2 separate regions of the Homo sapiens genome follow, and region 2 is linked to region 1. A link means that fine-mapping ties the variant in region 1 to the expression of a gene that starts in the linked region. Tissue or cell type: whole blood. Region 1 holds a variant in brackets; the other region holds the start of a gene. All regions are shown on one strand. Distances are between the middles of the regions.

Evidence for each region. PIP is the estimated chance that this variant, and not a neighbour inherited with it, causes the effect.
Region 2: FAXDC2 starts here. The variant in region 1 is fine-mapped to the expression of FAXDC2 in whole blood (TOPMed, PIP above 0.99).

What each region holds. Positions count from the first base shown.
Region 1 is chr5:154,816,014-154,821,161 of GRCh38, reverse strand. LARP1 (La ribonucleoprotein 1, translational regulator) reads right to left here. Exons shown (of 19, transcript NM_033551.3): 19 at 3,557-5,148. FAXDC2 (fatty acid hydroxylase domain containing 2) reads left to right here. Exons shown (of 9, transcript NM_032385.5): 9 at 690-2,670. The coding sequence ends at 846. Among named protein-coding and RNA genes, the nearest start is that of MIR378H, 11 kb to the left of the region's middle. The variant G/A (reference allele first, on the strand shown) is at 2,423.
Region 2 is chr5:154,847,759-154,852,906 of GRCh38, reverse strand. FAXDC2 (fatty acid hydroxylase domain containing 2) reads left to right here and starts at 2,304. Exons shown (of 9, transcript NM_032385.5): 1 at 2,304-2,424.

The DNA of each region.
Region 1 (5,148 bases):
AGTGCTAGTTGGGGAAGAGGTCTGATGGCTGGGAAAATAACCACACTGGGATGACCTTACTCTTTTCCTTCTGAAATTGGGTCCTCCTCCAACTGGGGGTTTTAAACCTTTATTTGGACTCTGGGCCCTTTGAATAAGCTCTGGACATTCTCTTTAGAAAAGTACATATATGCATAAAACTCCTGCAGGCAATCACAAGGAAGTCATGTATCTCTGAAAGCCCCAGACTTTTTCAAGTGTAGTCTACAAACCTCCTATACCAGAATCACCTGAGATGCTTGTTTAAAATATAGGCTCTTGAATTCCACTCCAAATATGCTGAACTAAGGTATCTGGGGGAGCAGGGCCTGGAAACCTGCATTTTAGTTAAGTGTTCCAGGGGATTCTGATGCTGGTGATCTCATACCTGAAGAAGCCTAGTTCTGCTAGAGATTCTCAGACTGTGGGCATCAATCACACAGCAAGCTTTTCAAAGGAGGACTCCAGATACGGCAAATTGCAGGTTTGGAGTGGCCCCCGGGAGATGCATTGGTAGCAACTCCCCAGCTTATTCTGATGCAGATGGTCAGGATGGTGGTGACAGGTGTGGGGTAGGAGGGCTGAGAAATGTGTGAGGCTGGCACAAATGAAATGGGATCTGCACGGAAGCCTCCAGCATGGGCACTGCAGTGCCGTCCTCTCTCTTCTAGGTTCAACCAGTGCTATGGGGTGCTGGGTGTGCTGGACCACCTCCATGGGACTGACACCATGTTCAAGCAGACCAAGGCCTACGAGAGACATGTCCTCCTGCTGGGCTTCACCCCGCTCTCTGAGAGCATCCCAGACTCCCCAAAGAGGATGGAGTGAGAGACAGCCTAAGTGTCATCCTGGCTGTCCCTCAGCCATGGGATGCAGACACGGCTTCCTGATTGCACCTAACAATTTGCCTCCTTCGGCCACACGCCCTAATGATGGCACCACCAGGGTAGAGGGAAGGTCGGCTTCCCGGAAAAGCAGGGCCAAGGATGAGGCTTTCTTCAAACTACTGCCCTTGATGTCCCTCAATGGGATCAGGAGTTAGCTTAAGAAAAAGGAAAACACAGCTCCCCAGACTGGAGGCTGGTCAGAGGGAGGAGACCCCTGGTCCTCTGCTGTGGAAGGAGAGGGGTTCAGCCCCAGATAACTCCTTTGTGGCCTGGGCAGGATGCAGAGAATGACAAGGCTGAAAGGAGGGGGACTGGAGGCTGCCTGGCTCCAGCGAGAGCTCCTTCTGGGACCAGAGGGTGGGACGGCCAGGTATCACTTTGCCCCTTCCTGCCCCAAAAGGCTTTCACATACCCGACTCAGGCCAGAGCCAAGACACCCTGGCAAATCATTATAGGTCTCAATTCATGACATACCAGATGCCAGTCGCCACTTCACCCAACACACACACAAACATACACACACCAAACACTCTGAGTGAGTGGTAAAGGCCCCGTTTTAACTCTGGCCCACCGCAAACAAAAGGTTTCCCTCTGTGGGGGAGAAAAAGAAATCCAGGAGCTCCTCCCTGGATTAAAACCAACGAGGTGCAGACCAAACTTTAACACCTTTAGCCTTATGTGGAAACCAAAAACCAACTGCTGGGAAACTGTGAAAAGCCCTTTTACCCACAAGGGGAGGGGTCAAAGTTGCTGCCCTTTGGGGACACCCGAGACCCCTAATTAGCCTATCTGAATGAGGACCAAAGGTTAGAGCCCTCTTTCTCCCCGAAGAAAGAGCCCGGAAAAACATGGCAGAGCAAAGAGCAAAATCCTTTCTCCCCCGAATGCTTTACCAGTTTCTCAGCAACATTTATTCAAGATGATTTTTACCAGGAACCTTATCAAAGGCAAAACCACAGCTGCTTGGGTTGAAGTCCCCATCCTGGCCTCCTCTCAGCCGCCAGACATGGCCAGGAACCCTGTGGTTCCCAAGAACAATTTAAAGATCACTCTTTGATTTGAAAGACCACCATTATCATTTTACTAAATTCTTATATATACTTGTGCCTTTTCCAACTTTCAGTTCTCTTAAGAAAAACATCCACTGTAGCTTTATAAAATACCTTAGTATCAGCTAGGTCCAAGTCTCCAGGCAGGACTATCAAAATGGACTCCTTCTTCCTATCAGCTCTAGAACCCCAGAGGACTTGCCCAGTAGGCCAGCTGAGCACTTACCAGGCAGCATCTCCCTGGCCTTCCACAGTCTCGCCTGTCTGTCTCTGGCCTTGGTGGACCTGGCTCCCTCCCTAGGAGGCTTTTGCCCTCAGCTTGAATACAGTTCCTGGTGCATCAAAGCTGTAAGTTCTCAGCTGCTGGCCTGCACTCATCACCTCTTCCTACAAATAAACATTTGGAAAAAAGTCCATCTTCAATATGCTTAAAGAGAAGGGTAGGAGATAAGGAGAAAGAACAGATAC[G/A]GTTTTTTTCCCCTTTAAGGCCTTTAGATTTTGAGGTACTGTAAGGGGCCTAGAAGGACAAAAGGCTTTCATTCCCTCTTCCTTTTGGCAGGCAGGTTATCAGTCCTTGGCAGAAGGGCCCAGCCCTATCCTTTTCTGTATCAAACAAAATCCTTGAGGTTGGTATACAAGTTAAGGCTGAAAAAAGGCCTTAAATTCCCAGTAAAGAATGTGAAAGCAAGCATGTAAAATAAACTGGTCTTCATGAATTCCAGTGGATAATTTTTTTTTGAAGGGAGGTGTCTACTACAAGACTTCTAATACTTCAGACATAGCATTTGGAAGCTCAGGCTGTGAAATTAAGCTGCTGTGAGCATTCCTAACGATAATTTGTGAAAGTAAGTTTCAATTAATTCATCTTTCTGTTTTCAAAGTACCAATCCGTCTGCATCAGCCCTGGACACTATCTCCTAAACTTTCCTTTGGCCTGTGGAGGTCACTGGTGGTACTGAAGTACCTGCCAACCTCAAGAACAGTGAAAAAGCACTCTCTGGAAAAACCATTTACCCAAGCCAGGTATGGGAGACAGTTGTCAGATGAACACGTAAATAAGGCCATGCCCCATTTTTAGTTTTGTAATTTATACGGGGAATGGGGGACTCTTTGTTCCATCCCTCCCCAGCATCACATCTCAGGGTTCGGGGCTGACCAGGATTCCGTAAGTCCACATGGTGCTGGATCATTCCTCCTTCACCCCCCTGTGGAAAAGTCTGTTCATAGAGGGGTTGTGGCAACCCTCCATAAGAAGCCTCATCGTTTTTCTTCTTGGCTGTCTCATAACACAATGCAGGCCACAGCCAGGGGATGGAAAACCTGGAAGCTGACAAGTGCGCTGAAATCCTGGCATTATGCTGGACTGCTGTTTTGTGGCACTGGCTATGACTGTCACGTCTCACTTAAGACACAGGGTGGACATGAACTCAAGGCTTGTAGAAGCCCCTGCCTTAGGCAGACTCCTCGAAGCCCAATGGCAGAACCCCTGCCGAGGTTTCATGTGCACATTGAGTGCAGGGTTCCTCCGGATCTGGGGGAACTCTACCAGAAACCCATCCTTCACACCCAATAGCAGTAACCTAGATGGAAGACCAGCCAGTATTTTGCCTTTTCAAGTGTTTATTTTTATACATTTTTTTGTATTAAAAAGAAAAGCATAATTACCACAAATTACAAAGGACTAAAGCAGGACTAGAATAATGAATGAATCACTTCAGCCTGGAAAGCAGATACTCTCAATAATATTAATGTTATAATACAAGCTCATTCAAGTATTTTACATTTTTTTGTCCTTTTAAATATGATATCCTAGCACATAGTAAAGATAATGTACTACGAGCGTAAGGTGGAACCTTCTCCGCAAAGCCAGATGACAAGTTTTCCTCTCCAGTGAGAAATGGGCTCCAAGTTCTTATCTTCTCTGCCATCAGCATGGCTGAAGGGGGAGAGGGTGGGTGTTAGGGAAAATCCAGGGACCCTTCCACACAGGAGGTACTCTGGGGTTCCATTCAGGAGGGTGCCAGATAATTCAGATCACTCTACCCAGGCTTTTTGGCAAAAAACAACCCTCACCCTCCGTAACTAGTCATCTTCCTTGTCCCTCCTCCTCACTTCCCTTCCAGGGCCTTCTAAGCAGCTTACTTTCTTTTGTAAAATCAATCACCAGGAAAGGGGAAAAAAAAAAAAAAAGAGCTACAATGGAACAAAACAAAAACATTTAACAACTTTGACACAGGGGCTCAGCACCTCTATCTGAGCCCCAGGGGTCCAGGCTGGGGCACGGCTGGATGGCCCTTCTCTACTGGTAGTGCCTTTGCTCCCAAGTGCAGGAAGAGGGCTAAAGAGAAACCTGCCCCTTAACAGGGCTGAGGCACACAGACCTGCTGATGTCTGATGCCCAGAGGTTATGTTGGCATGGACCAACCTTGGAAGGGATAGGATGAACAGAGGGATCTGGGCAGGCTGTTGCTTTATCTCAGGTCTTGGATCCCCATGGGACGATGGTAGGTGTGAAGTGGTTAGCCCTGATGGCCCCTGCCACTTCTGGCATGCTTGTCACAGATACATCGGTCCTAAATTCAAGTGTCTTCAGAAAGTGAAGATGTAAACTACTCTTTGCAACATTAACTCCTAACATGTTACCAAAAACAAAAACAAAAACAAAAACAAAAAAAAAGGAAAGAAAAGAAAAAGCTCCCCTACCAACCACCAGCCGATGTTGAGATGAAGTCCTCACCTCCCTGCCCCAAAGGGGCTTCCTTTCAGGGATGTCTGTGAAGAAGATGGCAGCCCCCTGGCCTGGGAGTAAACTCTAGGTAATAACAGCCTTTCCCCATACCCTAAGGCTTCCTTGTGCCCCAAACCAGCAGAGGAAAAACACTGAGGTTTCTGTGGTGCTGGATACAGTACAGGGCTGCGTGACCTGAAGGAAAGAAAGGAAAGGAGAAGGGGGTCCAGGAATCCAGTGTCCGGTACAATGTGGGGCAGGCACCAGACTGGGCAGGGAAAGGCCTCGGATACCACCATCATAGCAGAGACCAGACGCTCATCCTTGGTTTGAGACATGAAGTCACAGGAACTGAGATGGGCTTCCCACATACCAACCACTGGGAGGGCAAAGGTGGGGAAGGGCACAGGCTAAAAATTAACAAGGTGCCCAAGGTAAAGGGCAAGCCCTTGTCAGCCTGGGATAC
Region 2 (5,148 bases), 32 kb before region 1:
CGCTTAGAGGCAGGAGAATCGCTTAAACCCAGGAGGCGGAGGTTGCAGTGAGCCGAGATTGTGCTACTACACTCTAGCCTGGGCAACAGAATGAGACTCCATCTCAAAAATAAAAATAAAAAAATTAAAAAATAGAAAGTAGGAGGGAATAGGAAATAATATCATCTGAGAGGAGCCAAACTAAAGTGAGTCTTGGAAGTCTGGTAGCACAGGTTTGTTCAGTGCACAAGATAGACTTGGTCAGCTGGAAAATATAGACATTCTGCAATATCTGGAATATTGAAAAAAATTAGTATCTCTGAAAGGAGAGATGAGGAAAAACATGAACAAGTTGTACAAAATGTAATTAATTTGTGAGCAAGCATTGAATGTTTACTGAGCCCTTGCTTTGTGCAACGAATTAGGCAAGGAAAATGAGGAAGACATGGTCCTTTATTGGCCAAATAAAGTATGACACATCTATACAATGGGACGGGAGGCAGCCATTAAACAGAACATGGCAGCTCTTAAGGGTACTATATGGAGCAGTCTCCATGTTTTGTTGTTGACAGTTTTATTTATTTTAGAGACAGGGCCTCATTATGTTGCCCAGGCTGGTCTCTAACTCCTGGGCTTAAGAAATTCTCCTGCCAGGCCAGGCACGGTGGTGGCTCATGCCTGTAATCCCAGCACTTTGGGAGGCTGAGGTGGGCAGATTATGAGGTCAGGAGTTTAAGACCAGCCTGGCCAATATGGTGAAACCTCATCTCTACTAAAAAAAAAAAATACAAAAATTAGCCGGGCCTGGCAGCGCACACCTGTAGTCCCAGCTACTCGGGAGGCTGAGGCAGAAGAATCGCTTGAACCCAGGAGGCGGAGGTTGCAGTTAGCTGTGATCATGCCATTGCACTCCAGCCTGGGTGACAGAGCAAGACTCCATCTCAAAAAATAAAAAAAAGAAATCCTCCTGCCTCAGCCTTCCAAAGATTGCTGAGATTACAGGCATGAGCCACTGCACCCGGCATTTTTTATTTTGTTTTGTTTTTTAGAGACAGGGTCCCACTCTGTCACTCAGGTTGGAGTGCAGGGCACAATCATAGCTCACTGCAGCCTCCAACTCCTGGGCTCAAGCCATCCTCCCACCTCAGCCTCCCCAGTAGCTGGGATAACAGACATGTGCCAGTAAGCTCTACTAATTTTTTGTATATGTAGTAGAAATGGGGTTTTGCTACATTGCCCAGGCTGGTCTTGAACTCCTGGCCTCAAGTGATCCTCCCGTCTTGGTCTTCCAAAGTGCTGAGATTATACATGTGAGCCGCCGTGCCCAGCCAAGTTTCTGAGTTTTGTTTATTTTAGAAAGGAGTCTTCCTGTGCTGCCCAGGCTGGTCTCAAATACCTGGGCTCAAGTGATCCTCCAACCTCAGCCTCCCAAATAGTTGGGACTACAGGTGAGCACCACCATGCCTAGCCAATCTCCATGTTTGATTGTTAAGTGGAAAAAGCAAGGTGCACAACAAACATACTATGGTGCTGTTGCTAAAGGAGAAGCACAAGGCCTACACATGTTTCTATTTACAGAGGTAAGCTCTGGAAGGATATACAAAAATCTGGTCACAGAGGTTGTCTCTTGGGAGGAAAAAAAGGGGACTGAGGAGAAATTAAAAAAAGACTTTTCATTGTACATTCTTTTGACCCTATTGTATTTTATATCATTTGCACATTTGCTTATTTAAAAAGTTTTCAGAAATTTAAAAGCAGCTCTTTTTCCAAAGTGCTCCTCACTTCATGTCATGGGTCCTGTATCCTAAGTTCCCCTATTTCAATCACAGTGCAAATTTACCCTCCACAGGCATGCCTTTCCTGCATCTAGACTCACTAGAAATAGCTGATGCATCTCTCCTCCCTTGCCTGCCCTCCACAGGAAAAGAAGCAATGAAAAAAAAGAAAATGAGATCCTCTGGTCTCTGTCACCTTTTTATCAACTTGTACTACCTGCCATTATCTGACACCCACATCTTTTCTTGAATCTGCCTCCTCCTATGGGACAGCGACATTTTCTTAAGTTGCAGATGATGGAGAAAATTTTTTAAAAGAAAAAAAGGGGGCAGGGGGAGGGAAGCCCAGAGTTTGGCCAAATGCACGTTTTTCAAGTTCCTGCTTGAGCTTAGATTCCCTTTCCGCTTTAAGGACATGCCCTCTGGAAAGAAGGGTGTTTTGTTTCCAGCCCACACAGACCCAAACTTTTTTCATCACGTGCCTGGTCCGAGCCAGTACGCAGCTCTGTAATGAGATCACCATGGCCAGCCTCCCACCCGAGCAAAAACAAGGTTAGCCTGCAGCAGAGCCGCAGCAGCAACAGCCACCAAAGCGGGGGCTGAAAGGGAAGAGAACTTAGATTTGACCTGTGCAAGGACCTCAGCAGCTTGGACACAGCCCACTGCAGAGGTAAGTGGGAACTACGGGGGAGGGGTGGTGTTTGCAAAGGTCAGGACATGTCCAGGTTCACTTAAAGTAAGGGCAAAACAACACTCTTCCCACCTCTGCCACCACCCTGTCCTCTCTACTTATGGCAGGGTTAGATTTGCCTCTAAACAGGGTTAGATGGCAGGGTTAGAATTTGTCCTAGGACATTGCTGTAGTGCAGTCGCCTCCTTGTCTCTTACTAATGTCTGTATCCTCTGCCTGTGTTTGTACCATCTACCTCCTCAGTAGTCTAATTTTTCTAGCAATTGACAGGTGATTGTAATGGACAAGTAATTGTTTGACTTTAAAACCATTTGTAAAGGAGCAACTCCTAATTCAGAACTCAAATGAGAGGCAGAACAAACTGGAAGAGACTGTTGGGAAGCAACTGCTGCCTAATTGCTTCTCATCTCTACTCTGCCATCACCAGGAAGGTATGGGGCAAAATACAACAGTTTTAAAGTCTCTGGATAGATGTGTGGGCTATGAGCTAGACAAGTAGGTTGAAACTGTTTTGATGCAACATACTTGGATTTACCAACAGTGGCTCCAGTTGTGAAATCGTTAGTGGCTTGATAGTACCTATGGAAACACTCCACGAAGGTTATTGAGTAAAGGGCATACAGTAAAGTGTGTAGGTGGAGATGAACAATAGAACAGTGGCTTTCAGGACCTTCTGGGGCTTAAGGCAAGCAAGACAAGATGCTGATTTGTGGGTTGCTTCAGTTTCATGTGCAATTCCAATTAAATTTCTTTGAGTGGGATATACAGATTCAATTCAATTTGCTAAAACACAGATGCACTGAGCATCAGCTTCTAACTTTAGTTACGAAAGTAATTAGCACAAGGGAATGGTGCTAAAATGTTCCATAGCAAATGTTGAACACTTTTTGAGGGCAAAAAGCAATGCTTTTGATTCGTGTATCTCTTATTTATTCGGCAAATCTTTCTTGAGTATCTTCTACATGCCAGGCTTGGGCTTGATTCTGTGGATCTCGTGGTAAACAAGACAGGCAGATTCTCGGCCTCATGGACATGCAATCAAGCAGAACAGTAAGCTCAAAGGGTGCAAGTACCATGCAGCAAAAGGAGTGAAGAGAGTATTACTAAAACTGGCCCATGGGAATCATTTTTAACCTTTCCTTTCATGCATTTCATCTTCTGTTTTTGTTTTTTTTGTTTTTTGAGATGGAATCTCGTTCTGTCACCCAGGCTGGAGTACAGTGGCGCGATTTCAGCTCACTGCAACCTCCACCTCCTGGGTTCAAGAGATTCTCCTGCCTCAGCCCCCCAAGTAGCTGGGATTACAGGTGCCCGCCACCACACCCAGCTAATTTTCGTATTTTTAGTAGAGATGGGGTTTCACCATGTTGGCCAGGCTGGTCTCCAACTCCTGACCTCAGGTGATCTACCCACCTCGGCCTCCCAAAGTTATGAGATTACAGGCATAAGCCAACGTGCCCAGCCGCATTTCATCTTTGTTTTTTTTTGTTTTTTTGAGACAGACTCTTGCTCTGGCGCCCAGGCTGGAGTGCAGTGGCATGATCTTGGCTCACTGCAACCTCCGCCTCCCAGGTTCAAGCGATTCTCCTGTCTCAGCCTCCAGAGCAGCTGGGATTACAGGCGTGCACCACCACACCCGGCTAATTTTTATATTTTTAGTAGAGACGGAGTTTCGCCATGTTGGCCAGGCTGGTCTCAAACTCCTGACCTCAGGTGATCTGCCCACCTCGGCCTCCCAAAGTGCTGGGATTACAGATGCGAGCCACCGCTCCTGGCCGCATTTCATCTTCTTAAATGAATATCGGCCACTCTATCTTCTATATAAGCCTCAGATTAGTACAGATGTTGAGTCATAGCAGCTCCTCAAAACCCTCTTCACCAGAGGCTTTAAACTGTGTAATTACATTACAGGTCAGTCTCCTCAGCCCTGGAGGTCGACTGCTCAGCTTTTTCCTAGCATACAGTCTGAGAGCAGAGGCTGAAGTAAGGGGAGTTCTAATCTTTGGGTCAGTTGCCCTCTCCCTGTGTCATTTCTTATGAAATAGAAGTTATGCTATTCCCAAAATACATACAGCACTAGGCAAAGTGTTAAGAAGCCTAGATTTTGCCAGAAACCATGTGGAGTTTGGAGCAAGTCATTTCTACTAACTAGGGCTTCCTCCTTAGCTTATAAAATGGAAGGGGTAGACCAGATGAACATGAGGTCTTTTTTCTCCCCCCTCTAAGAGTAAATTGTCTCAACAATTTTACAAGTTGTTTACAAAACAATACACATTCACATAAAGGTGATGTATTTATATCTATAAAATAGGAACATTCAGTAGGCCGGGCATGGTGGCTCACGCCTGTAATCCCAGCACATTGGGAGGCCGAGGCGGGCGGATCACAAGGTCAGAAGATCAAGACCATCCTGGCTAACATGGTGAAACCCTGTCTCTACTAAAAATACAAAAAATTAGCCAGGCGTGGTGGCAGGCACCTGTGGTCCCAGCTACTCGGGAGGCTGAGGCAGGAGAATGGCATGAACCCGGGAGATGGAGCTTGCAGTGAGCCAAGATCGCGCCACTGCACTCCAGCCTGGGTGACAGAGCAAGACTCTGTCTCAAAAAAAAAAGGAACATTCATCAATCATGCAGAATATCCAGGAAACAAGAATATGAAAGAAAATCTGGGCCAGGCGCAGTGGCTCATGCCTGTAATTCC